Linked DNA regions of Homo sapiens: all the other regions are linked to region 1. Evidence: fine-mapped expression QTL. A gene starts in region 1. Each other region holds a variant in brackets. All regions are shown on one strand. Distances are from middle to middle. Region 1 holds the start of GLT1D1 (glycosyltransferase 1 domain containing 1). Region 2 overlaps GLT1D1 (glycosyltransferase 1 domain containing 1). Region 3 has its middle 120 kb from the start of TMEM132D-AS1. Region 4 overlaps GLT1D1 (glycosyltransferase 1 domain containing 1).

Region 1 (8,105 bases):
ATGTCTTCAAGCAACTTCTGCTTTTTTCTTTTTCTTCCCCCAGCAATCCTTCCTGAGGTGAAGGACAACAAACGCCTGGTCTGAATAAACATCAAAGCCTGAATAGCAGCCTTTATTCTGCTTCTGCACAGCCAGGAAAAGAAAGAACGAAGTGACTAAATGGCCCTCCACTCCAGTTTAGCTGAAGTCAACCTTCTGCATAAACCCTGCCCGCCTCCTTCCCCTTTGTAGCCCCAAGGCCTAGCAAGACAGGCACTTTCAAAAGTGCACCACCAACAGAATGATGGGGGAGTGAATCTCAGGACGGCAGCTAACATAGTTATTTTTTCTATTAATTCACCTCTGAGTTGGGACAAAAGTAACGTGACCTTGTGGGTGGATGTGAGTTTGGGCCCTTGGAAGATGTGGGTTTACAGCTCAAGTTAGGAGCAAAATATTAAATAACAGGTAATATTTCCTTTTTGCCTGAAGCTTCTAACTCTGTGCCCGTTCAGGTTCTTCGGTCACTCAACATTGTTTTTGATTTTCTTTTCTGTTTTTGAAACGGAGTCTTCTCTGTCTCCCAGGCTGTTGTGCAGTGGCGCCATCTTGGCTCATGCAACCTCCGCCTTGCAGGTCAAGCGATTCTTGAGCCTCTGCCTCCCGAGAAGCTGGGATTACAGGTCTGTGCCACCACAGCTGGCTAATTTTTTTATTTTTAGCAGAGATGGGGTTTCACCATCTTTTTTTGTTTTCTTGTTTTTTTTAGTGGTAATTACTTCTTAAGCACAAAGTGTTTTCCCCACCACATGTACAAGCCAGATTTGGCCTCTCTCTCTGACTCATTTCCTAGCACTGGCCCCAAACTCTCTATAGTCCAGTGACCCTGGCTGCCTTTCTGCTTCTCACACAGCTCAGGACCTGTGTTCTCACCATTATTCCTTCCTGGGACCATCCCTCCAGATCTCAGTGACAGCCTCTTTTCGGTCTTAGCTTCAATGTCATCTCCGGAGACAGCCTCCCAGACCACATTCTCTAAAGCATCTCAGCCATCATCATGCCTCTCAATCACTTTATCTAGTTTTGTCAGAGGCGTCTGAACCAGAGTAACTCAGTCTTGAATAAGGGCTGGGTAAAATGAGGTTAAGACCTACTGGGCTGCAATCACAGATGGTTAAGGCATTCTAAGTCACAGAATGAGATAGGAGGTCGGCACAAGATACAAGGTGATAAAGACCTTGCTGATAAAACAGGATGCAGTAAAGAAGCCAGCCAAGACCGACCAAAACCAAGATGGCAACGAGAGCGACCTCTGGCTGTCCTCACTGCTACACTCCCATCGGCACCATGACAGTTTGCAAATGCATGGAAATGCCAGGAAGTTACCCTATATGTTCTGGAAAGGGGAGGTGTGAATAATCCACTCCTTGTTTAGCATATCATCAAGAAATAACCATAAAAATGGACAACCAAGGCCAGGCGAAGTTGCTCATGCCTGTAATCCTAGCACTTTGGGAGGCCAAGACCAAAGGATCACGTGAGGTCAGGAGTTCGAGACCAGCCTGGCCAACATGGTGAAACCCTGTCTCTACTAAAAATACAAAAATCAGCTGGGTGTGGTGGCAGGCGCCTGTAATCCCAGCTACTCCGGAAGGTAAGGCAGGAGAATCGCTGGAACCGGGGGGCAGAGGTTGCAGTGAGCTGAGACCCCGCCATTGCACTCCAGCCTGGGCGAAAGAATGAAGCTTTGTCTCAAAAAAAAAAAAAAAAAAAAAAAAGGCAACCAGCAGCCCTTGGGGCTGCTCTGTCTATGGAGTAGCCAGTCTTTTATTTTTTTACTTTCTTAATAAACTTGCTTTCACTTTAAGGACTCGCCCTGAATTCTTGCTTGTGCAAGATCCAAGAACCCTCTATCGGGTTCTGGATCAGGACCTCTTTCCGTTAACAGTTTTGTTTTATTTTTTAGAGTTTTGATCTGCCACCCAGGCTGGAGTTCAGTGGTGCAATGTCACTTCGCTGCAGCCTCAACCTCCTGGGCTCAACTGATCCTCCTGCCTCAGCCTCCTGAGTAGCTAGGACCACAGGCATGCACACACCACATCAGCTAATTTTTAAATTTTTTTTTGTAGAGATGAGGGTTTCACCATGTTGCCCATGCTGGTCTTTAACTCCTGGGCTCAAGCAATCCTCCCATCTCAGCCTCCCAAAGTGCTGGGATTACAGGCTTGAGCCGCCATGAAAGCCTGCCCTAGGTTTTTTGTTTTTTTTGTTGTTGTTGTTGTTTTTTTTTTTTTTTTTTTTAGATGGAGTCTGGCTCTGTCACCCAGGCTAGAGTGCAGTGGCGTGATCCCAGATCAATTGGCTCACTGCAACAGCTGCCTCCCAGGTTCAAGCGATTCTCCTGCCTCAGCCTCCTAGTTTTGCTTTCTTAATAGCACTAATCCCTATGTGAAATCACCTCCTTCATTCCTCTCCCATACTGGGATGCTGGTTCATCCAACAGAGCCAGGAACACAAAGGGCTCCTCACTGCTAAACCCAAGCAGAGCATCACTGACCTATTTAATAGAAACCTGCACCATGAAACCTGAGTGTAAATTTTCCAGCAAATTTCAGAAAACTGATGGATCCTCTCTTGGTCATTTCTGCTTATGATCTTTAGGAGAAATTAGCTGAAAGGGACATGAAAGTGTTGGTGGAGTCTCAATTGCTCATTTTAATGATGAGGAGGCCGGGCACAGTGGCTCATACCTGTAAACCCAGCACTGTGGGAGGCCGAGGCAGGCGGATCACCTGAGGGCAGGAGTTCGAGACCAACCTGGCCAACATGGTGAAACCCTGTCTCTATTAAAAATACAAAAATCAGCCGGGCGTGGTGGTGCACACCTGTAATCCCAACTACTTGGGAGGCTGAGGCAGGAGAATGCTTGAATCCAGGAGGCGGAGGTTGCAGTGAGCCCAGATTGCGCCACTGCACTCCAGCCTGGGTGACACAGCGAGACTCCATTTCAAAAAAATAAATTGATGGGGAAACAGGCCCACAGAAGGGAAGTAAATCGGGAAATTTCATGAAGCAAGTCCGCTTTTACACACACACACACACACACACACACACACACACACACACACACGGCTTCTGTTAAGCTGCAGGCTCTAATCCTGGCACTTCCCAGGCTTCGCCTCAAGGAATATGTTTATCCGGCTAATACAGGCCGAGCGCCCGCTGTGCGGGTGGGAGGCGGCGGGATTAACGCGGCGGCCCCTCCCCGGGCCCCCGCCGGGCTTGCGTTCCAGCGACCAGAACACAGACCAACAAGTAAACAAATAAGACAAAGGCAGAAAAAGATGAGTGTGAAGGAGCTAACCAGCCAGGAAGACGAGAATAGACAGGGCAGAGGGGAGGTGGGAAAGGGACTTCGGGGACAGGACCCCGGACGCCGGCACACAGCCGAGACCCGATCCGCGAGGGCAGGGCTGGCACCGCGGTCCCCGGCCTGGAAACGCGCCCCCGCCGGGAGCTCCGCGGACCCCGCTGCGCATCCCTGCGGATCCTGCTCCCATCCTGCTTCTGCAGCGAGGCCTTCCCGGGCCCCTCCACGACAGGCTCCGGGCCTGTTCACCTGCTCAGTCCCCTCCGGAGAGCGCGAGGCCAATGCGCCGGCCGCACGGAGACCCGGGGACACGCGCGCCACGCAGAAGGCACCGACCCCCGCGCGCCCGGCAGGCGGCACCGGCCCATCCGTTTGTGCGCGCGGCTCGGGACGGCCCCGGCGCGGCTGGAGGGGGCCTGGCTGAGCGCCCCGCGTCCCCGGGTCCCGCGTCCCCGCCCCCCGGCCCCCGGCCCAGGCTTCGTAGGCCCCGGCGCCCTGCACCTACCGAACGCGCTGGGCCGTGACCGCGTTGCCGGTGTGTGGCCGCAGCACCGCCAGGAACAGGAGCCGCATGCCGCCGCCGCCGCCCGGGCCATCGACCGGCCCCGCCGCCGCCGACCAGGCCCCGGGGCCGGCGCAGACGCGGACGGCGGGGGAGCCGGGGCGGCTGGGTCTGTCCCGCCCGCCCCTCCCCGAGGCCGCGCCCCAGCTCGCAGGTTCCGGCGCCAGGCGGGGAGGGGGACAGGAACCGGGGGCCTCGGGCGGCGCGAGCCCTGGGTGCGGGGTGGCGCGGGTGTGCCCCGTGGGGTCCATCACCAGGGTAGCCGCGGTCTGTTTCCACCTGGACCAGGACCAGCGGTGACCACAGTCCCTTCCACGGGGACCAGGACCATCGGTGACCACAGTCCCTCACACGGGGACCAGGACCAGCGGTGACCACAGTCCCTCCCAAGAGGACTAGGACCAGCAGTGACCACGTTCCCTTCCACAGGGAACAGGCAGCGGTGACCACAGACCATTCTCACGGGGACCAGGACCAGCGGTGACCACAGTCCCTCCCAAGGGGACCAGGACCAGCGGTGACCACAGTCCCTTCCCACAGTGACCAGGACCAGGGGCGGCCTTGGTCCTTTCCCACAGGGAACAGGAGCAGGGGTGGCCATGGTCCGCTCCCATGGAAACCAGTGATGGCTTCCATGGGCTTCATTGGGAAATCAGGGCTTCACGGAACACCGGGTTGGCTGCAGGTCTGTGCCCACCGGGACCAGCAGAGACCTCGGGTTCCGTCCCACAGGGTGCTGCAGAGAGGGGCTCTCAGCCTCATTTTCCATGACAACCTGAGTGGGGCCTTGGTCCGCACGAAGCCCAGGATTCCTTTCTAGTCCCATTCCAGGGAACGTGGCATGATCAGTCCCAAATTCCTTCCCAGGCTAGACTACCCTAAAACTAACCCGAGGAGGGGAACATGGGGACTGTGTGAGGAGACAGTAGAAACCCATTTCAGGGCCGCACCTGTCGGGTGAGAAAGATGTTGGAGAGGGGAACCTGGGGTTCATCAGGGTACATGGGCTGCACCTGGTCTGGATCTCCAAACTAGGATACCTTGAGTGAGAGAAATAGGGAACTGAAGGAGGCCTCTGGCAAAATGCCATCTGTGGATTTAAACAAGCACTCCCCAAAACAGCTGTTAAGTGTTTACAAAGATGCACATGTATTTACAGATGTGGGACATTCTAGTGGGTGCCCAATATTTCCATTGACCTTCAAACTTGATTTTCTGTCATCCCCTAAATACCTTCCAGCCTCAAAAAGGTAAAGTGGGAATGAAGAAAGCCATGACATGGGATAACCACCGTCAGTGGCAGGTCTCCGGCCTCCCTACGCAGCATGGTGACCCCCAGGCTTATCAAGATATAAAAGTCCATCCTGGAGGGCACATTCGGCTCCGCAGGCTTCTCCCAGGTACGTCCACCACTCTGCCTCTCAGTGTGGCATGGAGTAGGGAAGAGTTGTATATCATTGTAGAACAATCAAAATCCTGTCCTCCTCTCACTCTCAAAAAAACACCCAGGATTTTGCTCTTCTTCCTGGTATTTCAGCTTCCCAGGCACCAGGCAGGCAGGCCACATCCTTTTTAAAGGACAAAAGCGATCTGAAAATATTATCATTCTGCTAAACAACTTAATACTTTCCAACAGAATTACATAAGCAAACAGGAAAGGGGACAAGTTGCACAGAGCTGTCACAACCCCCTTCTAACGACATTTTAGAAAAAGAGTTTTGACCCCGGGCACGGCGGCTGACTCCTATAATTCCAGCACTTTGGGAGGCCGAGGTGGGTGGATCACTTGAGGCCAGGAGTTCAAGACCAGTCTGGCCAACATGGCAAAACCCCGTCTCTACCAAAAATAGAAAAATAGATGGGCATGGTGGTACAAGCCTGTAGTCCTAGGTACTTGGGAGGCTGAGGCATGAGAATCATTTGAACCCAGGAGGCGGAGGTTGCAGTGAGCCGCGATCATGCCACTGCGCTCCAGCCTAGGCAGTAAAGCAAGACTCAGTGTTAAATAAATAAATAAGTTTTGAGTGGACTCCTGATATATTTGCTACACACCAAGAAGAGGCAATAAAACGCAGTGTCTGGTGTGGTATACAGAAGTAGAGGGGGGCACTTGCCCATGATCTTCCCCTATTTCACCTTGCCCATGGGATATTAAAAGCTAAATGTGAACAGATACATTTCTGATTTTACAAAGGCGACTTCAGCATGAGCCCAGAAAGGAACCTCCCTAAGGAGAGTTGAACTGGCAGCCTTGTGGGCTCAATATCATCCTTAGATGTATTTAGGCTACACCGTGTTTTTCATAAAAGCTGAGCTATTATTTTTTGTTTGTTTTGAGACAGTGTCACTCTGTCATCCAGGCTGGGGGTGCCGTGGTGTGATTATGGATCACTCCAGCTTCCACCTCCTGGGCTCAAGTGATCCTCCCATCTCAGCCTTCCAAAAAAGTAGCTGGAACCATAGATGTGCACCACCATGCTGGGCTAATTTTTTGTATTTTTTGTAGAAGTGGGGTCTCACTATGTTGTCCAGGCTGGTCTTGAGCTCCTGGGCTCAAGCAGTCAACTCACCTCAGCCTCCCAGAGTACTGGAATTACAGGCGTGAGCCACTATACCTGGCCAAGCCACCATTTTTTAATTGGGAGCTTTCATATAGAAGTTGGAATTTCTGATATCTGTTAAAAAATGAGAGATCTGATTAAATGAAGCCACCATCCTGTGGCTGACTGAAGCTGGGAAGCAGCTGCCTGCTTAAGATGAAATCTGAATGTGCCATTTCACACAGTGCTTGAAGGCTCACTTCAATTCCTTGATAACCTCGATCTGTATTCTTGTGTTTAGAAAAAATTTGAAGTTTATTTTTACGTAAATTAAGTTCAGAAGAAGGTGGCCCAAGCCTAATATAGTGGCTGTACCATCACCAGGAACCCAGACTTTCCTCTGTCTACTCCATCATGCTAGTGTTTAGCTTCTAGTCTCAAGATCACCTTATCAAGGAATTGATAAGGAGTAGGACTGCTACAGCTCCACCCATCACATCAACATTCCAGGCAGCAGGAAGGAAGGAAAGGCAAAAGTGGTGCACTCCAGATGGTGTATTTTATTTTAAAGTGTCTTCCTAAAAATGCAAACAGCCCTATGCCTTTATTGTGTTGGCCACGTGGCCATTTCTTGCATCCAAGGAGGCTAAGACATGCGGTCTATTAACTGGGTACACTGCCACCTAAATACAATCGTGGTTACTAAAGAAAAGTGGCAGAATAGGTTTGCAGTAAGTCACCTCTGCCATAGCAATCTAAATTAATAGATTAAAAGAGGAAATGGCAGAGGCATTTGAATCAGAGCAACTCCCTCTTGAATAGGGGCTGGGTAAAATGAGGCTGAGACCCGCTGGGCTGCCTCCCAGGAGGTTAAGGCATTCTAAGTGACAGGATGAGATAGGAGGTCGGTACAAGATACAGGCCACAAAGATCTTGCTGATAAAACAGTTTGCAGTAAAGAAGCCGGCCAAAACCCACCAAAACCAAGATGGCAATGAAAGTGACCTCTGGTTGTCCTCAACTGCTACACTCTCACTAGCGCCATGACAGTTTAGGAATGCCATGGCAACGTCAGGAAGTTACCCTATATGGTCTAAACAGGGGAGGCATGAATAATCCACCCCTTGTTTAGCATATCATCAAGAAATCACCATAAAAATGGGCAACCAGCAGCCCTCGGGCTGCTCTGTCTATGGAATAGCCATTCTTTATTCCTTTACTTTCTTAATAAACTTGCTTTCCCTTTACTGTATGGACTCGCCCTGAATTCTTTCTTGTGTGAGATCCAAGAACCTTCTCTTGGGGTCTGAAATAGGACCCCTTTCCGGTAACAGAAATACATATGACCCTCTCAATGGGTGGAATAAGAACATTCAGTAGGATTCAACACTCATTCTTGATGATACAAAAGAAGTAATAAAAGTAAGAAGAAAGAAAGGAACAAAGGAAGGAAGGAGGGATGGGGAGGGAGGCAGGGATGAAAGGAAGGAAGGAATTCAGTAATATAAGAAACTACGAAGAACTTTAAAAACTCTGTTTTTTAAAATCTTGCAGGTAAAAATTGCCTGACTCTGTGATTATCTCTTTTCTAGTCTCTCTACAGCTTATGAGTGGTTGAACCAGATTCAGAACTGCTCTCCAGAGGACTTTTGGA
Region 2 (8,105 bases), 59 kb before region 1:
CCATTTCATTATCTCCCTAGAACAACTAAAATTGAAAAGACTGTCTACTCCACCGGTGGGCAAGAATGTGGAGTAACTGAAGCTCTTGTCAGCTTCTGTGGAAGTGTAAGATGGCACACCTTGGAGAACTGTTTGGATATTTTTTATAATGTTAATCATATAGTCAAGCTATTTGACTTAGAGGCATTTATCCAAGAGAAGTGAAAACATAGGTCACCAAAAAACCTTGCACAAGGATATTCATAGTAAATGTATTTGTAACGGTTAAAAATGGAAAACAAGCTAAAAGTTCATCAATAGAAGAAGAGATAAACAATTTGTGATATATGGAATGAAATACACCATTCCAAAATAGAATACTAAGAAAAAAGGTCTACAGATACACACAATAGGGATAAATCTCAAACACATTAGTTGAACAAAGAAAGCCAGATACAAAAAATTATTCAATGCATGACTCCACTTAGATGAAGTTCAAGAACAGGTAAAACTAATCTAAGATAAGAAAAATTAGACTAGGAATCGCCTATAAAGAGACAGAAATTAAATATGGAAGAGGGCATGAGAGAACTTTCTTGAGTGGTGGAAATGTTATCTATCTTGATTGGGGTATTTGTCACATGGGTATATACATTTGTCAAACATTTGCCTAATTTTACACTTGAGATCTCTGCATTTCACTGCATACAAACTATAGAATTATTTTAAAAAAAGGATGAGTTCACTCTATTCTACTGACATAATGAGCAAAGAAGGCAGGTTAGAGTAGTAAGTGAAGCTTGACTTTGTCTTTTAAACATCATTATTTACATGTAAATTGTTGAGAAAGATCACATCAAACATTAATAGCAGTTTCTTTTTGGTGATGAAATTTCAAGTGATTAAAATTTTTGTTGCATTTTTTGGCCAGGCCCAGTGGCTCATGCCTGGATTCCCAGCACTTTGGGAGGCTGAGGTGGGTGGATCACCTGATCAGGAGTTCGAGACCAGCCTGGCCAATACGGCAAAACCCCGTCTCCATTAAAAATACAAAAATTAGCCAGGCATGGTGGCGCATGCATGTAGTACCAGCTACTTAGGAGGCTGAGGCAGGAGAATCACTTGAACCCGGGAGGTAGAGGCTGCAGTGAGTCTAGATCACACCACTGCACTCCAGCCTGGGCAACAGAACGAGACTCCATCTCAAAAAAAAAAAAAAATGTGTTGCATATTCTGATATTTTCTCATTTTTCTACAATGGTAATTTAACTACGTGTATAATTAGTAAAGTAAAATAAAATGAACACATGAGGTTGTTATTCTTATAAAGAACAAATGTCACAGGAAATGATACTGAAAATTTGGAAAGCAGGTGCTAAAAACAGCATCAGAAAGGGCCAGAGCCCCTGTCTCTCTGGCTTTCTAGCCCTGCTGTTCCTCAAAAGGATAAAACTACTCATGAAGCCGCAGACAGAGGGAAATGAACCTTGTTCTCTCTGACAACCACTTTTTCAAAACCGCATGAACGTCACAAGCTCCTGAAAGTAACTGACAAGATGCACTTCATCAAAATCCTCTAAGAAGATCTCATGTCTCACCAGAGCGTTGAAGAAAGGTATTCCAGTTAAAAGCGGCGTTTGGTGTTGTTGCAATTCCTGGGTCAAAGAAACAAAAAAAGGGCAAGTTCACTTTGAAGCGACTGCTGAAATACAATGAGTTATTTTGTGTTGAGGCTTATTATTATTATTACTATTATTCTTATTATTTTGAGACAGAGTCTCGCTCTGTCACCCAGGCTGCAGTGCAGTGCCACGATCTCTGCTCACTGCAACCTCCTCTTCCCGGTTTGAAGCGATTCTCCTGCCTCAGCCTCCCGAGTAGCTGGGAGTATAGGCGCCCGCTGCCACACCCGGCTAATTTTTGTATTTTTAGTAGAGACAGGGTTTCACCATGTTGGCCAGGCTGGTCTCGAACTCCTGACTTCAAGTGATCCTCCCGCCTCAGCCTCCCAAAGTGCTGGGATTACAGGTGTAAGCCACCACACACGGCCCACTTGTGTTGAAGTTTAAATAACAGTAGCACCTGGTTTTTATAAAGCCGCTCGATGCTCTGAGTGTGTCACTGAAGTCCCATGAATCCTTCAGCACAGGAGGGTTAAAAAGAGCCCATGGATTCCACATGAGAAAAGACGCACCCCTTTCAGCCCCAGGATCCATGACAGGCCCAAACGGGGTTAGGGGTTAGACAAACCTTGAGTTCCTTAAAAATGCCAGGAAGTAACAGGTTTCAAAAACACTGTCAGCTAAGCCCCATGTGAAAATTATACCTCCCTGTAAAATTCCCACTCTCAACCCTCACCAACTCATGCCTGATGGTCTGTTGGCTATTACTTCTTCAGAGAGAGAAGTTACATTTAATTTTTGCTGAAAAAAAAAATGACTATTTTACAATTTAGAAATTCAGAGGCAACGTCTAACACGTTATCTTGGTAACAGAAACATTTTGAAATTTTATAAAATGTAAGTAAATCAAGTCATCTAACCACCTCCAAAATCCACCTGCATAATCGTTATTCACACTGAATCATACTGACAGCGGCTATTTAACAAGCGCCCATTTCAAGCCAGCCCTGGGCTCCGACTGCATGTAGGCGCTTTCCATACTCCACTGTAACCCTTAAAGGCCCACTGAGCAGACTGCTTCCTCCAGTTTATCCAGCTGGACACTGATGTTCAAAGAGGTTAAACGCACTTCAAAATGCGCAGGGTGGAGGTGGTAGACGCTGTGTTCAAACCTACGCGCTGCCTCAGAGCCCAGGTTTTTCCTGCTGCACCAGCTAAAAATGTCACTGAAGCCAATGCAGCAAGGACACGGTGATGACAGGATGCCGTGCCTCACTAAGGTGCGCCTGAGCACCATGGAAGTCCTCAGGAGGCCCGAACGCCTGGCCTCAGCCTCTGCACTCGTTCTAACCTGAGCTTGGGGCCAATTACATGTTCTTCCTTGGATCTAGTCTTTCCATTATTTCTATCATGTAGTACAGTGGTTTACAAACTGTGTTTAGAGAGGCCGGGCACGGTGGCTCACACCTGGAACCCCAGCAATCTGGGAGGCCAAGGCGGACAGATCACCTGAGGTCAGGAGTTCAAGATCAGCCTAGCCAACACAGTAAAACCCTGTCTCTACAAAATACACAAAAATTAGCTGGGCGTGGTGGGGGGGCACCTGTAATCCCAGCTACTCGGGAGGCTGAGGCAGGAGAATTGCTTGAACCCAGGAGGCGGAGGTTGACGTGAACCAAGATTGCGCCACTGCACTCCAGCCTGGGCGACAGAGCAAGACTTCATCTCAAAACAAAAACAAAAAACTGTGTTTAAACCTCAGAGGGTTTGATGAAGGGCCTCAGATGCCACCATAGGGGCAGAATTGGGCAGGGAGGAAGGAGGAGTATGAAGGGAGAAGAGTTCCAGTTCCCCCAACTCAAGTCAGCTGAAACAGAAGCTCCGCATTTGGTTTGGTTTGTTTTTTCCAAACATACTGCTGATGGAGTATATCGTACTTCTACTGGCAGAAAATGTTAAGTGATCCGCATTTTAAATCATTATTTTATAATTTCTCCTATTTATCTTTTATTCTAATGTTAGAAAAATCTTAACAATGTAGCCATTCTCAGGCAGATTGCTTGAGCCCAGGAGTTCAAGACCAACCTGGGCAACATGGCGAAACCCCATTTCTACAAGGAATACAAAAAAAATCAGCTGGGCATGGCGGCTCATGCCTGCCTATAGTCCCAGCTACTGGGGGGGCTGAGGCTAGAGAAACGCTTTAACCCAGGAGGCAGAGGTTGCAGTAAGCCGAGATCGCACAACCGCACTCCAGCCTAGGCGACAGAGCCAGACCTTGTCTCAAAAAAGAAAAAAAAAAGTAGCCATTTCACTGATTATTTTTAAGTAAATCTGAGAAATCATATTATCTCCTTCATAAACATCTCAATATGTGTCTCTTAAGGATGCAAACTTATTCTTTTAAATATATATATATATTTATCACATATAAATATGCATCTATTTTGATATATTCATTCTCTATCCCTGTACATAAGTAAATAAATATTTTAAAAATCTTACCTTGACTCTGGACATAGACCTTACCCTTAGCATGCGGCTTTTGAAAGGAGGGGAGAGAGAAAAGAAAAGTACATTGGACAGTGCATGACAACTGCTTTTTAGAAATAAAATGAAGGTCATTAACAAAAAAAGCCGTCCTGGAAAACATCACTGAGAATCATCTACACAGCTGCTCATAGACTTATTACTCTGTAAGAGCAAAGCATTACTTCTGCTTTTTAATAGGTTTTGCCATTAAAAATACAGCATCTATAAGGTAAGAAGCACACACACAAAAAGTCTCTTAAATGAGGCCTAATGCAATTTTGCAATTTTACACTTGCTATATTAGTGGAGACATTACTGAAGTTCAGCCAGAGAGCATGCCAGTGCCGGCCCAGCTGATGCAGCTCCCGCCCCTGCGTGGAGGTGGAGGTTTGGGGAAGCATGTTATGGCTTATGCATCCCTGAGGGGAAGACTGCTTCCACCACCCCCAGAAAAAAAGAAGAAAGGAGCAGGAGGAGAAGGAGGAGCTGCCAATATGTTGGGAAACCAAAGACAGGCCCCAGGAGGCAGATCCTTCC[A/C]GGCAAGGGAGGACAGCCGGGTGGAAAGCGTCTGGTAAGTTACCTCCCTGGCACCAAGCAAAAGGCGGCCCTTGCATGACGGATATGGATATTTGTACCAAGATATCAACTTACTATTCCTTGCCATGTTTTCTGGTGGAATGTCACAAAACTACTAGAGAGAAATTGAATCCATTTCTCCAGTTCATTTTGAAACAGTGGCAGGAATATTTTTAAGGTGACGTTTAGATGGAAAGGTGGAGGCAGGAGCAGAGTGATGGAGCAAGTCCATGCCAAGGACGGTTTCTCTCAAGTGATCAAAACAGGCCGTCATTTTGGTGAAAGAGTCCAAAAATGGATGTCTTTTTGTCATGTGACCTAAGCCTGATCAATGCATTAAGTGACTGAACTAGCTAGATCCCTGGAGGTCACAGAAGACACACCCCTGTCCTTCCTCGGTGTAGGGATACAGTGTGGTCTTTAGGGCACCAGGGAGCCCTCGGCACTGCATGGGGTATGCTGATCCACGTTGGACGTTGTCCCCACTTCAGTTTTATATTTTGGGACACAAGCTAAAGTGAAGTAGCCCTGCCAAGGGCGAGACAATCAACAGGAAGAAGGAGACTGGCCCTCCCCAAGCCTGGGAAGGTTTGGTAGAGGCAGCATCCAGGCAGAAGGTGGGTGGCACGGCCAGGCATGGTGGCTCACCCATATGATCCCAGCACTTTGGGAGGCCGAGGCAGGCAAATCATTTGAGGTCAGGAGGTCAAAACCAGTCTGGGCAACATGGTGAAACCCTGTCTCTACTAAAAATACAAAAATTAGCCGGGTGTGGCGGCATGCGCCTGTAATCCCAGCTGCTTGGGAGGCTGAGGCAGGACAATCGCTTGAACCCGGGAGGCGGAGGTTGCAGTGAGCCGACATTGCGCCACTGCACTCCAGACTAAGCGACAGAGTGAGACTCTGCCTGAAAAATAAAAAAAATAAAGAAGGTGGTGGGTACACACGAGGCTCGGTATGGTGTTGGTTTTGTCCTTAGCATCGCATTTTGTATTTCACTACAGGAAGCATCTCAAGCCTCCAGAAGTCTTGCCTCTCCTCCCCACTTCATCGTGCAAGCAGGTATGTGTGGTATTCCAAATGCCCTTAAAATAGTAAACCTTTAAGAGAGAGTTTCAAAGACCTCTTCTCTACCAGTTAAAAAAGACATTAACTTTAATGAAAAAAAAAAAAAGGCTAAAGGCGACCATTGAAATTAGAAATTGCAGTTCAGAGCCCTAAACTACTCCTTATGCTGAATTATAATTTCCCTGGAAAGCTGGAAGAGCTGTTACTGGAGTGTAGTGGAGGCTTGGAGTGTTTCTTCCTAAAACAACCCTGTGTCCAAAACACTCGCCTGGCAACATCTTGAAGATGGATGGTAAAGCACTCACAATAGAACACCATGGCATTTAACTTAATATAACTTAATATAAGTGTTTGACAATAACAGATTCAGCATAATCCTAGATAAATATAAGGTGAGGCAACATAGAGTTTATAGTTTTTGTCACTATTTTCATTGGAAATAGGCTCTGCAATTAGCAATACATAAACTCAAAATGTTCCTGTCAAGAAACTCCTTTTTCCACCAAAAAAAAAAAAAAAAAAAAAGAGTTAAACTTGTATCTCAGCTCTGTCAGCAGAAGGAATTGACTGAAAGTGAAGATTTCTGGACTTATCTGCTGATCTTCCCACATCTCTGAGCATCATTTTTCTAATCATTTGAAAAGCGTTGCATAAATGGTATTTTCAGATCTCATCCAGGCAAACAGAGGAAATAAAGTTGCAGTATAAAGGAAGTCTGGACCTGAGTTATTTGTAATCATTGCAATAAAAGAAATCTGGCAAAAGCCAATTGGCTTATATTGATTTTGAAAAACATTTTCTATATGAAAGTGTAACAAATACAAATTAGCTTTCTTTGCTCAATATTTATTATTGTTCTCTCTGCCTTGAAATAACATGAGTCAAAGTCCTTGTGTACGGCCTGCCTTGCAGATTAGCTCATCAGTGCACACAATGGCAAACACTGAGGTGTGTCTATCAGCAACTGTTACCTCTTTGGCTCATTACTGGATATAAAAAGCCAGGATCCTATTGGATAGATACCTATAAATAGATGGACTTCTAACAGACCCAAGGACTAACTGATACCTTTTCATGCTGGAAATAACATCAACCAAAGAACTTCCCATTCTTTGACTAAACATAAGCCAGAGATTCACCTTCTAAAATTAAACTTTCTGCAAATGGAAACCACAATAGATTATTTTTGAAATACAGGCACAATTTTATGCTCTACAGATGACAAAAATAATAGTTTTTGTTCTGAAATTATAATACAACTTCAGACTGTGGCTTTGTAAAAACTACTTGTAAAACGATTACAAACTGCTTAAAAGAAATGATGGCCCATACATATAAAGTTGCAAAATATATTTATGCCACAAAACACAAAGAAATTGGGCACTTTTCAAGGTCACAGTGTCTTTTTTCCTCCCTCTACTCTTTTCCCTTAGAAATCTGTTATCGTGCATAAAAAAAAAGAAAGTAATATTCAAAAGGAAGGCGAGGTGTGGGGAGATTCAGCCTTGCCACTGAACTCCTGCAATGGAACCAACCACACAAAGAACAATTTTTCTTTTCTTTTCTTTTCTTTTTTTACTAGGAAGTACTTTAATCATTTTTCATAGAAAAAAAATGTCCAGACACTAACACTTCACAACATTTTAACAACAAAGAAAGAGGTTTTCAAGAGTTGGGATTCTGGAATATGAGGAAGAAGCGTTGGTGTCCTGCTTCATTATAGATGGATGGCACAGGTCAGAAACGGGAGACTAGCTGCGAAGCCAATATCAAAACCCAGTGGAATGACGCTTGGACCTATCGTGTTTATTTTTTATTTATTTATTTATTTATTTATTTTTGAGACGGAGTCTCGCTCTGTCGCCCAGGCTGGAGTGCAGGGGCGCGATCTCGGCTCACTGCAAGCTCTGCCTCCCGGGTTCACGCCATTCTCCTGCCTCAGCCTCCCGAGTAGCTGGGACTACAGGCGCCCGTCACCACGCCCGGCTAATTTTTTGTATTTTTAGTAGAGACGGGGTTTCACCGTGTTAGCCAAGATGGTCTCGATCTCCTGACCTCGTGATCCGCCCTCCTCGGCCTCCCAAAGTGCTGGGATTACAGGCGTGAGCCACCGCGCCCGGCCTGTCGTGTTTATTTTCCTTCCTGCTGCCCTCCGTGTCCCACAGAAACGCCAGCCACCATACAGAGCCCAGCACCTAGCTGAGCTGCCAGTCTTCCGCCTTGGGTAGGAGAACAATTAAAAAAAAAAGAAGAAGAAAGAAGGAAAGAAAGAAAGAAGGAAGGATGGAAGGAAAGAAGGAAAGAAAAAAAGAAAGAAGGAAAGAAAGA
Region 3 (8,105 bases), 140 kb before region 1:
TTCAGGGCCTTGGCTTTCTCACTTGTAAATGTATGGGGTGGTTTGAGGATTAACTGAACTATTGTGGATAAGACACTGTCCAATAAGAAGCAAATCTGGACTCTGGAAGGGACTTTATTCTAACGGATCCCTAAGGGGGCAGGAAGGGAAGATGGCAATGTGGAGAGAGGGCTCTAACTGTGAGCTCTGCCAGTATCCAGGGTCAGGCAGCCTGGACTTTCCTTTTTTGGGGGGAGGCAAAAACAAGCTAGGAAGAGCCAGTACAGTGTGAGGAGCTGGGGCGAGGGTGGCAAAAACCAGACAGCAGATCCAGAGTTTTGCCTTGGAGCCATCTGCTCCCAGGAGGATCTGCTGGGGGCCATCTGCAGCTCAGGCTGGGGAGTGGCGCAGGCCTGGGAGATGGAGAGGAGCTTTAATAAAGTTTGGTTCACATGCCTTTTTTTTTTTTTTTTTTGAGACGGAGTCTTCACTCTGTCGCTCAGGCTGGAGTCCAGTGGAGCGATCTTGGCTCACTGCAAGCTCCGCCTCCTGGGTTCACACCATTCTCCTGCCTCAGCCTCCCGAGTAGCTGGGACTACAGGCGTCCACCACCACGCCCGGCTAATTTTTTGTATTTTTTAGTAGAGATGGAGTTTCACCGCATTAGCCGGGATGGTCTCAATCTCCTGACCTCATGATCTGCCCGCCTCAGCCTCCCAAAGTGCTGGGATTACAGGCATGAGCCACTGTGCCTGGCTAGTTCACATGCATTTTATTCTGGTCCACCATGGGGGTACAGTTCAGCTCAGTCACTGATGAGGCAAAGATTGAGATTTTGAAGGGGCTGTATCTGGCCTTGTCACAGGTAAACATAAGGGTATCTGTGAGTCTCCTCCCATTCGGGGAAGGGGCTCTTTGCAGTGAGGGGTGTCCTGACCTTTGCTGTCTTCCAGGTGTCAGCAGACAGGGAATATCTCCAGGGACTGTGGGAAATTAATCCACTTGAGCATCAGCCAGTTTTACAGTCTCCTGCCCCACAGCCTGTTCTTCCCCAAACCCTGGGTGGAATGCGGACACCTTGTTGGTTGGAACCCTCTCCTGACAGCCCCAGTAACTTATAGATGAGCCTGACTGAGCCTTCCTCAGTGCCACGCTAGAGCCTCCATCCCAGGGGCAGCTACAGCTTCATTACCATCACATGTGACCTGTGCTGACATGAGACTCACTGTGTCTTTGCAGCTGGGGCCCAAGCTCTACATGCAATGACATACCATCTCCCCTCTCCCCGACCCCATAAGCCCTCCTGTCACTTCCCCCCACGGAGACGCTGCTTTGAGGAACCCTCCCAGGGCTCTCCTTACTTCAGTCAAGTAGTAAAACTCCTATTGATCAAAACCCACATTGTGATGGAGTCATTTGTAACTCGCCAGGTGAATGAACCCAGGTATTTTTCAGGCAACACAGAGCTCGGGAAGTTCAATGTTGTCAGCACTGAGCACTGCCTGGCACAGAGTAGCTGTTCAGTTAATGTTTGCTGTGGTGGACAGAAGTGGAGCACTGTCCCCATCTGACGGTGTCTAATTCATAAACACGGCTTTGTTCCAAATCCTCTCATGACTGGCAGTTGTTTACAGAATGGCTGAGCCCTTGAGTGCATTTAGACGTCGGGAGAGACACGACAGAGAATCACAGAGAGGGACACTTTCTTCACAGAATCCAAATCCAGCAGGTCATTAGACTCTGTAAGCTATTTTTCCATATATTTTTAAAATCAAGGAATTTACACCAAATACTGAGTCAGAAACCTATTATAGTTGACTGTACTATCAATGACCGGCCTGTGGCCTGTTAGGAACGGGGCTGTGCAGCAGCAGGCGAGTGAGCAAAGCTCCGTCTGTATTTATAGCCGCTCCCCATTGTTCACATTACCACGATCCACCTCCAGTCAGATCAGCAGCAGTATTAGATTCTCACAGAAGCATGGACCTCATTGTGAACTACACATGTGAGGGATCTAGGTTGTGTGCTCCTTATGAGAATCTAATGCCTGATCATCTGTCACTGTCTCCCGTCACACCCAGATAGGACCATCTAGTTGCAGGAAAACAAGCTCAGCACTCCCAACGATTCTACATTATGGTGAGTTGTAGAATTATTTCATCATATGTTACAATGTAATAATAATAAAGTGGACGATAAATGCAATGCACTTGAATCATCCCCAAACCACATCCACCCCCAACCCCAGTCCATGGGAAAGTTATCTTCCATGAAACCGGTCCCTGCTGCCAAAAAGTTTGGGGACCGCTGAATTATACTTCTTGGCACCCCGATCTCTGGATTCTTGTAAACGTCTGGCTATTAACCTTTCTACCATATTTTTATATTAGATGGTAAAATGAAAATACAGATGCTAAAGACAACAATCTGTTTTCAACGAAGCATGACTGTTCTACTAGTTGAAGCTTTCCAAAGTGCTTAGGGTGATTTTAAAGGCCTCTAATGAAAAAGGCATGACTATGGTTGTTTTTTTTTTCTTCTTCTTTTCTAAGGAGAAAGCTTTTGAAGCTTTTGTAATTTAGCAGAATGATGTTATATTTTAGGAGGACAATTCTCTCAGCCTAAATTTTTAAGGACTATTTATGAGTCTGAAAGAAGTAAATTATAAAATAATCTCTTTAAAATAGATTGTGGCCGCAGAGGCAGATGAAGTCATTCCTTTCAATAAACCCCTCCCCCTTTTTTGTATTCATTTTTCCCAGAAATTCCTTTACTCTACAAAGATTCTCTTAGAAATTACTTGCAGCCTCTTGGATGTGGTTTTTATCCTGAAAAATTGTTGAGGCTGAATAGCTCTTAGGTCATGTTCTCAATGACTTTTGATCCTACCTTCTTCATTAGAGATGACTCTGTAACATTATGGAACACTTTCCATGAGAATGCATTAATGCTCAACCTGTAATCTCAGCACTTGGGGAGGCCAAGGCAGGTGGATCACAAGGTCAGGAGTTTGAGACCAGCCTGGCCAAGATGGTGAAACCCCATCTCTACTAAAAATACAAAAATTAGCTGGCATGGTGGCAGGCACCTGTAATCCCAGCTACTCAGGAGGCTGAGGCAGGAGAATCGCTTGAATCTGGGAGGCAGAGGTTGCAGTAAGCCAAGATCATGCCACTGCACTGTAGCCTGGGTGACAGAGCAAGACTCTGTCTCAAAAAAAAAAAAAAAAAAAAAAAAAGGAGAATGCATTCTAACACGATTTAATTAATACTAATTGTGAAGCACCCCTGCAAGGTAACCCCAGCCCCCAAAACACAGCCTGAGCCAATTATTCTAATAAAAATTTGTAGAATGAATGAATGAATGGTTATATAGCCACTGTCAAACAGGATAAAATAAACCCCACAGGAAAATGGGAATATTTCCACATTTCCTGCTGGAGACTCAGTTCTGTACCTCAAAACAGAATGGCTTGGAGAGTCAGACAGTCAGAGGTTGACTTTCTTCCACTGAGCTCAGGGGCTGAAAATCTTGACTGTGCATAGGATATGATGTGCAGGGCTGTACATATGCGATCAGACGTGCCGTGCGTGTGGGGAGTTTTCAAGGAGAATGTTGACTATACGAGATTTTGGTTTTAAATGCTACCTCTAGAACCTACACTCTGCACAAGATGGAATTCCATTTTATCTCATTTTTAATGTCAATTCTTGATTTGTTTTAGTCAAGCTCTGACTCATGGATCCCTTCAGAAGAGATTTCTATTTCCCAAGACCCTCCAACAGGAACAACAATGTACTTAGTCATTCAGGGTAGTCATAAAAACATTTACAAGGGCCAAAATTAGGCCGGGTTCAGTGGCTCACACCTGTAATCCCAGCAATTTGGAAGGCCAAGGCAGGAGGATCATTTGAGGTCAGGAGTTCGAGGTCAGCTTGGCCAACACAGTGAAACCCTGTCTCTACCAAAAAACACACAAAAATTAGCTGAGCATGGTGGTGCCCACCTGTAGTCGCAGCTACTTGGGAGGCTGAGGCAGGAGAATCACTTAAACTCAGGAGGTGGAGGTTGCAGTGAGCTGAGATCATGCCATTGAACTCCAGCCTGGGTGACAGAGTGAGACTCTGTATAAAAAATAAAAATAAATAAATAAATAAAAGCCAAAATTATATATAGTCGATACATTTAATTGTGTTGTGTTTTCCAGGATTGTGTCTCACTTAACACGGAGGGACATCTGAGGAGATTCAGATGAAAACCCCTGCACTCTTTCACTCTGAGTTTTTAATTTAGGAGCTGCAGGGTTTGAAGCACTAATCAGTAGAAGCAGTTGGCTGAGGACTCATTTTACAAATGAGGATCTTGGGGAAGAAAGGTGAGCTGTGTCACAGTGGACTCAAAGGCTAAATTAAAACCTGCTGGAAAACAGTTTTCTTGGCATTAAAAGGTATTTAGTGATTAATAAAAAGTAGGATGCCTGTAACTGCTGCAGACACTAAAACCAGTTTGTCTCAATAGCAGCTGCAACTTCAAGCTGCCCCTAAAGTATGCATTCTCCCTTTTTTT[G/TG]TCATAGATCCCAGCTTTTCAACCAGGCACATGGCTGCTCAGAATACCCTGCATTTCCAAAATTCCCTTGCAGCTAGGTGTGGCCATGGGATGTAAGTGGAGGTGGAGATTGTCCTGGAAGGAAGGAGAGAGATGTCTTCATTCCTGCCTTCCATTTTCCTGCAGCCTGGAATTCAGGCATGATGCTGGAGCATGGGCAGCCACCTTGCACCATGAGGTAGAGACAGCCACAAACTGAGGATGGAAGAACAGGATGGAAAGAGCCTGGATCTTTGCCCCATACCTGCTCGGTGAATCTCTTGAGAGAGAGAAAATATGCATCCTCTTTTGCTTAAGCCACTGTTTATTATGGATCTTATGTCTGTTTTAACCAAATGTCATCCTGATACCCTCCCACTCCATAGCAGTGTCAAGTCGGTCCCTCCTCCTGACTCTTAGGTGTGTAAAATGTTTAAAATACTAACAGGATGTAAATACACTGAAAAGTAAAATTGCAAAGGTTGCAAAAGATGCAGGATTTGCTGAAATTGGTGAAATCGATGTTGGAGAATTACTTGGACCACAGGCACGTGAGGCTCTGGCAGTGCTGGAAACCGGCTAACAATTGAAGAAAAACCCAGAAGGAGGATAAGGGGGACAGGACTCGCGGAAGAAAACTTCAATTTCAAAGGAAGGAGAGAATCTCTGGGGGGTATCGATGAGGTACTGGCATGTTGTTTCTTACTTAGTTGTATGAAATATCTCTTGGCCTGGCTGGGCACAGTGGCTCATGCCTGAAATCCCAGCACTTTGGGCAGCCGAGGTGAGCAGATCACTTGAGGCCAGGAGTTTAAGACCAGCCTGGCCAACATGACAAAATCCTGTCTCTGCTAAAATACAAAAATTAGCCAGGCATGGTGGTGCTTGTCTGCAGTCCCAGCTACTTGAGAGGCTGAGGCAGGAGAATCGCTTGAACCCAGGAGTCAGAGGTTCAGTGAGTCGAGATCACACCACTGCATTCTAGCCTGGGCGACGGGGCGAGACTCCGTCTCAAAAAAAAAAAAAAAAAAAAAAAAGAGAGAAAGAAAAGAAAAGGAAAAAGAAGTATCTCTCAGCCTTATAAGGTCTTTAATGTCTTTTTCTTTTCTTTTCTTTTCTTTTCTTTTTAAATAAAGACAGAGTCTGGCTCTGTCACCCAGGCTGAAGTGTAATGGGGCCATTATAGCTCACTGCAACCTCAAACTCCTGGATTGGAGCAATCCTCCCTCCTCAGCCTCTGGAGTAGCTGGGACTACAGGCACGCGCTGCCATGTCTGGCTAATTTTTTGCTATTTTTTATAGAGATGGGGTCTCACTATGTTGCTCAGGCTGGTCTCAAACTCCTGGGCTCAAGCGATCCTCTCACCTTGGCCTCCCAAAGCACTGGGATTACAGGCATGAGCCCCTGTATACTCAGTTTCTATTATGCCTGCGTAAATAAATTTTATTCAACATAGGACAGATTTAACCTATTTTCATAATTTTGGGCTTCATTTTTCAGTATGAAGTCACAATCCAACCTTTTCTTAGACTGTCCTTGTTTTCCATGAAACTCTGGTCCGTATTCGAAGGGATGAGGTAAGTCAGCAGTTGTCAGCTTCTGCTGCACACTGGGTCACTGGGGTGTTTCGGGCCTGGGTCTCCCCTGAGAGTCTGATGCCTTTGGTCAGGGACACCACCTGAGCATCCAGATTTCTCAAAGACAAGGCTGGGAGCCACTGTTTCAAGTGGTCCTGCCAGGTACGGCTGATCCCAGGTACGGGGATCTCTGCTCACAGCATTCCCACATCAGCTCCTACCAATGACTGACCCTTTAAAGTGACATTAGAATCAGAGAGGGGAAGTGAGGGTGGGGACTGGGAAGATGCAAGGAAACAAAGAAAGAAGGAGAGAGGGAGGGAGGTGAGGAAGGAGAAGACAAACGTTTCTTCATCAGAAAATGGATAAGAAGAGCTAGCTCTCCCGTCTCATAAGAAGCTCCAGATAAATGCTAAAGAAGACAAGTTCAACCACCAGGGACCCTTCAAGGGAAGAGGTCCTGTAGCTCCATGCAAAGTACTACTGCAGAGGCCAAAAGAGGAAGGCAATTAACACGACACCAAGACACCTGCTGTGAGCTCAAATGTTTTCAAAATTCCATCCTTAACCGTACACAGGGAGTGCAGTCTTCACCACATTTTCCAGATCTGTGGGGCTGGCAAGGGGTCTGGCTGTGCCCGTGTAATCCCATTGACAAGGGGAGCCTATGCAGTCTGGTTTTTTAAACTTTAAGATGCACGATGAACCTTTGAAGGTGGAAAAGGTACTCTGTCTTACTGCTTTACTGTGAGAGTGTGGGAAAGGGCTGAACACTGGTATTTAAGGAGAAGCTGTAAGCCTCAACTCATCACTCGGACCTTCAGCCGAGTGTCAGCAATGCCTCTCTGCTACACGACACTAAGTTATTAGAGATATATATATACACACACGTGTATATATAATATAAACACACGTGTAATATACACACATGTACATATACACACATGTGTAATAGACACACGTATATACACACATCTATATATACACACATGTATATACACACATCTATATATACGCACATGTATATACACACATCTATATATACGCACATGTATATGTGTATATATCTCTATATACGCACATGTATGTGTATATATCTCTACGCACATGTATGTGTATATATCTATATATACGCACATGTATGTGTATATATCTATATATGTGTATATATACATATATGCATATCTTATATTGTGTGTATATAGTGTGTATATATGTATACTTACAAATACATATATGTATATATACATATGTGTATTTATATATACACACACACATATGTATATATAGTTTGTGTTTTGTTTTTGTTTTTGTTTGAGGCAGTCTTGCTCTGTCACCCAGGCTGGAGTGATGTGGCATGATCTTGGCTCACTGCAATCTCTGCCTCCCAGGTTCAAGCAATTCTCCTTCCTCAGCCTCCCTAGTAGCTGGTATTACAGGCATGTGCCTCCATGCCTGGCTAATTTTTGTGTTTTTAGTACAGACAGCGTTTTGAACCATGTTGGCTAGGCTGGTCTTGAACTCCTGGCCTCAAGTGATCCGCCTGCCTCAGCCTCCCAAAGTGCTGGGATTACAAGCATGAGCCACTGCACCTGGCTTAGTGTTATTTTTATTGAAAGTATTTCCCTCAATATGTAAAGGTTATAGTATCTCAATTTTATCCTGAAATGTATTTTTGAGTCATTCAAACCTGTACGTCAGCAAACTAAAAACTACACACAAAATGTCTGAACATTTTACCCAAAGGAAATCATTATACCCAAAAGACACCTGTGCTCATATGTTTATTACAGCACTATTCACAATAGCAAAGATCCAGAATCAACCTAAGTGTCCATCAATGGAGGACTCAATAAAGAAAATGTGGGGGCCATGCGCGGTGGCTCACGCCTGTAATCCCAACACTTTGGGAGGTCGAGGTGGGTGGATCACCTGAGGTCGGGAGTTCAAGACCATCCTGGCCA
Region 4 (8,105 bases), 120 kb before region 1:
TAAATACAGGCCTATGCTGGTTGCCGCATTTCTTTTCTTTTCCAAGAGAGGTCTAAATTCTGGATATTTATGTAAAAGTGTTCCATGTTAAATATCAACAGGTAATTCAATATTTTAAGAATACAGCAAAGTAAACAAAACACATGTGCAGACCAGATGTAGGTCCAGGGCCACAGGTGTGCCAACGCTGGCTCAGGTAATGCACTTGTGATGTTAAATAATAATAATAATCATGCAAAAGAGCATGGTTTTGTCTTTAGAGAGTAATTACTCAATTAGTTGATGACCGTCCTCAGAGCTTCTTCCTTTCTGAGGAGTCTGGAGCTGCTGGTGGAGCATTTCTCATTGAATCCTTTTGACCTGCTCCATCCCCCTGAGGTTTCACCAAGATCCAGAGGAAAAGAAGTGGTGGCCATTTTGTTTTCTTGTTTTGCTTTTGAGATGGAGTCTCTCTCTGTCGCCCAGGCTGGAGTGCAGCGGCGCGATCTCGGCTCACTGCAACCTCTGCCTCCCGGGGTCAAGCGATTCACCTGCCTCAGCCTCCCAAGCAGCTGGGATTACAGGCTTGTGCCACCACGCCCGACTAATTTTTGTTTTTTCAGTAGAGACAGGGTTTTGCCATGTTGGCTAGGCTGGTCTTGAACTCCTGGCCTCAAGTGATCCACCTTCATTGGTCTCCCAAAGTGCTGGGATTACAGGTGTGAGCCACTGCGCCCAGCCAGTACCCATTTTATAAAATGAATATTAGAACCTCATTACAATCCTTCTCATGATGATGTCACCTCAAAGCCATAGAACAGAAGGGGAAAAAAACTCCTCCACGAGAAGCAAAAGCCTTGAGCAGGATGCATGCTGGGGCTGGCAGATTTAAAACGTTACGGTTTTAAAGAGCATTACATTCTGACAACCTTCAGCAAGTGATATATACTTATTTTTCCAAGATGAGCTACAGTCAATCACAGGAAAACTCTTGAATTTCAGGCTTGGTGTGTTAAACTAAACAGCCCCGAAGCTCCTCTCCCGCTGCTTCAAATACGACAGCTTGTCGATGGGAGACGTTGACGAGGAAGTGTCTCAAGGCTGGCGCAGGCCGCCGTCGTTAAAGATCTCGGGTTTTCCTCGGGCTTTTCTGGTTGGAGGCTTTGAGTTAATTAAGGCTTCGACGGTGGCTTTGCTTCTCAAACCTTGCTGTAAGACTCTCTAAGGGAGCTTGTAAAACACACACGCCCCACATACCCGCCCTCAGTCCCCGAGATACTGATTGGGTGGGTGGAGGGTGGGGTTCAGGAATGAGCGTTTTCTAACAGTGTCCAACAGCGCCCCCAGGGGATTGCAGGAAGCCTGACAGGTCTAAGGCAACCTGCCGTGCCTGCCTCATTTTCCAAAAATTATTTGGTCATGGGACAGATTTATTTTGTTGAAAACTGCAAGTTGTGAGGCTCCTCCTTCAAGACCTCAATGCCTAGAAGAGGAACGTGCATCTGACTGTGGTACTTTTCTTGTACACGGCACCATCCCTCTGGTCACATTTTATGGCACTATCCAAACTGTCAAACTGTCGCCGCTGACGACACATCAATGTGACCATGTCATCACCCCGACTGCCAGCGTACGTTGATTGTTCTCCCAGTAGCTCCTGCATCGGGTAAAGTCAGGACCATGCAAAAGAACACGAAGCTCTTCTCTAAACTCTTCAGCATGAACCTTCCACCCACCTCTTAAAACACAGAGTAGTCATTGATTTATAGGAGAATTGAAGTTATTTCACCCTGAACATCATGGTTACAGTTAGGGGCTCACTTTAAAATAAGTATCAAAAACAGCCATTAGGGGGCCGGGAGCTGTGGCTCACACATGTAATCTCTGCACTTTGGGAGCCCAAGGCGGGTGGATCACTTGAGGTCAGGAGTTCAAGCCCAGCCTGGCCAACATGGTGAAACCCTGTCTCTACTAAAAAACACAAAAATCAGCCTGGCGTGGTGGCACGCGCCTGTAGTCCCAGCTACTCCAGAGGCTGAGGCAGGATGATTGCTTGAACCAGGGACCTGGAGGTTGCAGTGAGCTGAGATAGCGCCACTGCACTCCAGCTTGGGTGACAGAGTGAGACCCCGTCTCAAAAGAAAAAAATAAAAAACAAAAAAACAGCTATGGGAATCTTCTGCAGATGGAAACTGAGCAAGCCAACTGGGTAGGGTCAGAAATAACCTCTCAGTCAATGAGCCCTGTGCATAGCAATTACTCAATACAGAGCCAGAGGACAAGGTGGTAGGGTGGGGACTCTGACCCCTACTCACGATGCTTGACTTCCCCCCGCCCCCAGTCATGATGCCTGAGTCTGACGTCCATTCCAAGACTGACCCCCAGTGAATCTGCCAGTGGGCCCTGTGTAAGCACGCTGAGCCAGGGAGGCTCCGTGCTCAGACCCTTTGCCGGGACAATGCCTGAGCGTGTATCTAACAGGCCACCCACAGACATGGTGGGTGCTCAGGAGTGACGGAGCGTGGGAGTCTGTAGCATGAGGAAGGAGGTTTGCAGGTGCAGGTGCGGGGGGGCACTAAACAAAGGAAAGCCAGCAGGTGAGAAAGCTAATTCCCATCCGATTCATCTTCACTGCTGGTGGAGGGGAGAACAGCCTCAATGAGGGGCAAATGCTTCTTTCTTCAACACTTCTTTAGCGAAGAGAGAGCTGGCCTCTGGCCAAGGGCCTCCAGTGGAGGTCAGGATCCAGCCAGAAATTAACAACAGCAGCCAACATGCATCCAGTGCTCAAAAACGTACACGGAATGAGGCTTCAGAATTCAGGACCTGGGGGATTTTAGTAATTCAGCTGCTATAGCCTTCTATTACATATCATCTCCAGCGAGGTCTAAGGCCATGCCCATCAACAACAGATCAGTGTTTCTTAATCAAAATGTATGAATAGTCCCGTGACGCAGGACAAACAGCCCTAGGTGACTTCACATCAGTTCAGACAGGAGTTTTGGCACCAAACTCACGAAAAAGAGTGGTCTTATGGATGGTGAGACAGTAAAACTCCTCTTTCCCTTCTGGCGTTTGCACAGCAGAGGTCGATTGTGCTGGTCAAAGGACAGCTGTTATTTGAGGAGGGAAAACAGTGCAAGACCTGGGTAGCTAACAGCAGGGTCACTGACCGTCGGAGAACCTGTGTTTTATTCCTGCCATTCCCGGGGCTCTGTGGCTCATGAAATGCACGATGCAGGGTTAGTGTGGCTCAAAGGCATTGCTGTGGCTGGGGTAGGAGGGAGCAAGAGCCCTTGCCATCTGTGAGCCGGGTGGGTCCGTAGATGTCCGTGTGAACAAGGACTCCGGCCATCAGCCAGGTACCTGCTAGTAAAAACGCACAGAGCTGGCAGGTGGGTCCCGACTGCATGTTTTCCAAGCGCTTTTTGGATTTTGAAATTGCAGAAAAGGAACTAGGAATTTGGACTATTCCTATGCGCCCTCTCCCCCTCCACACGCACAGATCAAGAGATGGGAGCCCAGGTCACCTGGGAACCTGCCTGAGGTTAACACATCACTGAGTGGCAGAAAAGGCATCTAGACCCAGACTGTCCCCCTCTGAGCACCGCTGCTGCATGTGGTGTGGAGCACAGATCACCAAGCGCCCCCCCCACACACACACACCCTACACACACACACACACCCCCTACACACACCCCCTACACACACACCCCCTACACACACACACGG[G/A]AAACCTGGGAGCCACCGATGAAGCTAAAAACAACTTCAGGAATATTTTCTGTGCTTCTCATTCGCTCACTTTCCAGACGATGGGCCGAGTAGAACACTAGCCATTTCAACACACACCCGGCTGGCTGAAAGGTGCTTCTGCTGCTCTGGTGTGCTTTGGGGGTTGGTGGGGAGAAGGTGGGCATCTTGAAGGAAAGAAGAAGGTGAGAGGCAGAAAAGGGAGGGAAGAGGGGGACCGGGAGACCTTCCTCTGGGCTTGTGTGACGGCTTGGCGGGTTAGAGCAGGAGGAAGTTGGAGGGAAAGAGCAGCCCATTAAAGTGCGGCGGTAAATCTGCCATTCGTTCTGGTTATGCCTGGGGGAGAGGAAAGAAACACAAGCAGGCTGGGGTGGTGGCTCACGCTTGTCATCCCAACACTCTGGGAGGCCGAGGTGGGTGGATCACTTGAGGTCAGGAGTTCAAGACCAGCCTGGCCAACACAGTGAAACCCCGTCTCTACAAAAATACAAAAAAAAAAAAAAAAATAGCCAGGTGTGGTGGCACATGCCTGTAATCCCAGCTACTGGGGAGGCTGAGGCAGGAGAATTGCTTGAACCCAGGAGGCGGAGGTTACAATGAGCCAATATCGTGTCACTGGACTCCAGCCCGGGCAACAGAGCGAGTCTCAAAAAAAAAAAAAAAAAAAAAAAAAAACCAAGCAAACAAACAAAACAGAAAAGACAAATACTTCATAATTTTACCTATATGTGGATTCTTAAAAAGTCAAGTTCATAGAAACAGAGTAGGAGGTTGGTTACCAGGGGCTGGCAGGCTGCAGGAGAGGAAATAAGGAAACACTGGTCAATGGTTCCGAAGTTTCAGTTAGGAGGGTCACATTCTGGAGACCTATGGGGCAGCCTGGTGACTCTAGTATACTTGAAAGTTGCTAAGTCAGTGGATCTTAAATATTCTCATTACAAAGAAAAGGTATGTGTGGGGATGGAAATGTTAATTAGCTCGATTTCATCATTGCACAATGGATGCACACAGCGAAACACTAAGTGATACACCATACATGTATACAATCTTTAAATTTGTCAAGCAGACCTTAATAAAGCTGGAAAGCAGAGTATGAACCTCAGCTGCACCTTTTACCAGGTTCTGGGCCTTGAGGAAGTTAACTCCTCTGTGCCTAGTTTGCTCATCTAGGAAATGGGGCTGATAAGAGCACATTTGTCATTGTGCAGGTTAAACGAGATAATCCACATTTGTATCTGCAGAGCAAGCATTCAACAGATGCTAGCCATCTTCCTTATGATGGGTCTTGTTTTCTGTGTTTTTTTCCTCCCAGAACATGTTAGCCTCAGTCTTTGGGGTGAAAGGAGGAGCACCCAGTCACACAGTTGCTCCCCGGTTCTTCCCGGGCCACAATTCCCAGCCTCCCTAGCAGCAGGTGTGATGTAACTGGGTTCCAGCCAAGGGAGCATGAGCAGAGAGGGGCGTGTGCTCCCTCCAGCCCAAGTCACACATACCTCCCATGGTGGACCCTGTCTTCTCTCTCCCGCAGCTACCTACACGTGGAGCTGGAGCCAGGCCATGGAAGGAGCCTGGGCTCTGAGTGACCGCATGGGCGGTGGTCACAGACCAAAACAACCAGCTCTGGCCTCCAGAAGAGCGAGAAATAATGTCTCCCAATGCTGCCCTCCTGAAGTGATGGGGCCCATTAGAGCAGCTGCCACTTCCTGTTGGCACCCTGGTCGTCTCATGGCTTTGCCCCGCATGCAGCCCAGTTCCGCTGCAGCCCAAGATCCCCAAGGGACAGCTTGCTCATTCAGACATGTGGCAGCGACCCTGGAGAGGGAGCCTTGACGTGTGCGACAGAGAGTCAGGGAAAACCACAGAGACCATTCTCCCGTATAAAGTGCAAACAATGGATTCTCCCGGCAAAACTCAAAAGAAGGCTGAGCTCACTAATGCGGAACGATGAGGTCAATGGCGCACAGAAAGGGAGAGAGGAGGGAGGGAGGAGGGAGGGGGGAAGGGAGAGAGGAAGGGAGGGAGCAAAGAAGGGAGGAAGGGAGGGAGCAAAGAAGGGAGGAAGGGAGGAGGGAGGGAGGAAGGGAGGGGGGAAGGGAGGAGGGAGGGGGGAAGGGAGGATGGAGGGGGGAAGGGAGGAGGGAGGGGGGAAGGGAGGAGGGAGGGGGGAAGGGAGGAGGGAGGGGGGAAGGGAGGAGGGAGGGGGGAAGGGAGGAGGGAGGGGGGAAGGGAGGAGGGAGGGGGGAAGGGAGAGAGGAAAGGAGGGAAGAAGGGAGGGAGGTAGGGAGGGAGGGAGAAAGACAGGAAGAGAGAGAAGGAGAGAGAAAGGGACAGAAGGAGAGAGGAAGGGAGAGAGGGAGGGAGGTAGAGAGAGGGAGGGAGGGAGGCAGAGGGAGGGATGGAGGGAGAGAGGAAGGGAGGGAGGAGGAGAGGAAGGGAGGAGGGAAGAAGGGAGAAAGGAAGGAGGGAGGGAGAAGAAATCAAAGAAAATGGGAGCAAAGAACAGATGAAGAAAAGGAGGGAGGAAGAAAGGAGGGAGATGAAGGAAGGAAGGAGGGAGGGAGGAAGGGAGGGCAAAAGAAAGACAATTTCTAAGCCAAAAGCATTTACATGGGATCTAAGCACCCAGGCAGGAGTAGGCGATCCTGTCGTTTTGCCGCGTGGCACTCAGCACCAGAACCTGTGACTGGCATGAAACTGTCAGAGACTACTTGCTAGGCATGGGGACAAAATCCGACAGGTGCCAATGATTGGGCGGGATGACTGCTGTCATCTGCGACTTTGAAAAGAAAAAGAAATGAGAGCAGTTAAAGTACAAGTGTGTGGCGTGCTGCATCGCTCACTATCAGATGAAAATAAAAAAACACGCCCTCTGGAAGGGTTGCGCCTTGTACGCCGGGGCATAATCATCCCTTCCAGTACTCACTGAGCACCCAGTCCATATCAGAGTCCCTGCGAGGGACAGCTGATGAGTAAACATGCCTGACTGCTGCCCTCGGGAAGCTTCCAGGCTGGGGACTGGTGTTTATAGATGGCAAAGAGTGCAGTGTACACAGACACAGGTGCGGGGACAGAGGAAACCCAAATGGGAACCCCAGTCACAGTGGGTGGCCACGAAAAGTCCTTCCAAGGTGATTTCAACCAAGAAACATTTGAGGAGGTGCCAGCCGTGGGCGCAGCTCGGTTAGAGACAGAGGGTGAGCAAAGCTCAGGTGCCGGACAGAGAAGCCTGGAACGAGGAGGGGGCAGCGCAAGCTGTGCAAGGCCTCAGAAGCCAGGCCAGCAGTGGCATTTTCTTCTAGGTGCAAAGGGGAAGCCACCAGAGGGTCCTCAGCTGCAGTGGATAGAAGCGGACTTTGACTTGGTGCCTGTGGCTGCGGGGAGGGAGTGGGCGGGCTGGAAGGAGGAGGCTGCTGGAACAGCCCAGGCAAGACCCTACAGCCCCTCGGTCCGGGAGTGCAGTGGAGATGGGGTCCAGCTGCGTTTGCAGACAGAGCTCAGGAGAAGTGGGACAGATGGGAAGTGGGGCTCAGGGGAGAGGGCGCGGCGGGCTTGGGAGCCCAGGACCCAGGACGGTGTGCCCAGCTGCTTGTGCACGCACCTGCAACAGGCAGGGGCTGAGGCTCCAAGCAGGCCTTCCCCTGCAGCATTACCCCTAAGGCTGCAGCCCACCGGGGTCCTCCACAGACCCTGGCCCGGCTTCTACCAGTGCCAACATGTCACCATCCTCTTCCTTCTGAATTCCAGGATACCCCAGAAACGGCCTTCGGAGCTGATTCCTACAGCAGCGTTGTTTTGATGTGAGGCAAGCACCCCGCTGACTGGGGACTGCATTTGTCAGGGCTGACACAGATCACCAGGAGGCCTCCAGGAAGCGCACACAGGCAGAGGCAGGGGGAGGGGAGGGTCTCTCCATGCCTGGCCCCTCCCCTAATCACAGTCCCCAGCTGGAGCCTGCGGGCTCACACTCCTGGCAGGTGCCCAGCAGGCTTTGCAGAGCAACAGGTGCACCCACGCGAGGGCCCAGGAGATGGTGGAGAGCCAAGTGTCAGGATGACGCAGAGATGCCTCCTCCTGTTCTCAGAGGTGGGGACTGAGCTCACAGCGGGAAGGAAGCTCTTCTCTCTCTGCCTCTTCCCTCTCTGTATTTTCAGAGAATTCCAGACGCGATGCAAGCAGGATGCTCCCTGCTTGGTCAGGAGTGAGGCGGCCAGGAGGAGCCCCGAGTGCCTCCGCACCTTGGTGATGGCCCAGCCTCTGTGCCTGAGCAGTGAGCCCCACCTTGTGGCTCACCCGCGTCCTGGCCCTGCTTGCCGCGCAGCAGCTCAGTGCACACTCAGCTCGGTGCACACCCAGCTCGGGGCAAACCTGCCCTAGGG

The links.
Region 2: its variant is fine-mapped to the expression of GLT1D1 in unexposed skin (GTEx, PIP above 0.99).
Region 3: its variant is fine-mapped to the expression of GLT1D1 in whole blood (TOPMed, PIP above 0.99).
Region 4: its variant is fine-mapped to the expression of GLT1D1 in whole blood (TOPMed, PIP 0.92).

The regions. Positions count from the first base shown.
Region 1 is chr12:128,849,399-128,857,503 of GRCh38, reverse strand. It overlaps GLT1D1 (glycosyltransferase 1 domain containing 1), which reads right to left and starts at 4,026. Exons shown (of 12, transcript NM_001366886.1): 1 at 3,855-4,026. The coding sequence starts at 3,922. It overlaps LOC100128276 (a long non-coding RNA gene), which reads left to right and starts at 4,409. Exons shown (of 3, transcript NR_148996.1): 1 at 4,409-4,428; 2 at 5,152-5,311; 3 at 8,044-8,105. RefSeq lists an enhancer at 3,045-3,696 and silencers at 3,558-3,757, 3,948-4,047.
Region 2 is chr12:128,908,462-128,916,566 of GRCh38, reverse strand. GLT1D1 (glycosyltransferase 1 domain containing 1) reads right to left here. Exons shown (of 12, transcript NM_001366886.1): 5 at 4,107-4,143; 6 at 1,578-1,634. Among named protein-coding and RNA genes, the nearest start is that of GLT1D1, 59 kb to the right of the region's middle. RefSeq lists an enhancer at 1-71. The variant A/C (reference allele first, on the strand shown) is at 4,671.
Region 3 is chr12:128,986,123-128,994,227 of GRCh38, reverse strand. No RefSeq gene overlaps it. Among named protein-coding and RNA genes, the nearest start is that of TMEM132D-AS1, 120 kb to the left of the region's middle. The variant G/TG (reference allele first, on the strand shown) is at 4,546.
Region 4 is chr12:128,969,479-128,977,583 of GRCh38, reverse strand. The region is part of intron 11 of GLT1D1 (glycosyltransferase 1 domain containing 1); the gene reads right to left. Among named protein-coding and RNA genes, the nearest start is that of GLT1D1, 120 kb to the right of the region's middle. RefSeq lists enhancers at 523-1,027, 4,861-5,360, 5,361-5,862. The variant G/A (reference allele first, on the strand shown) is at 3,712.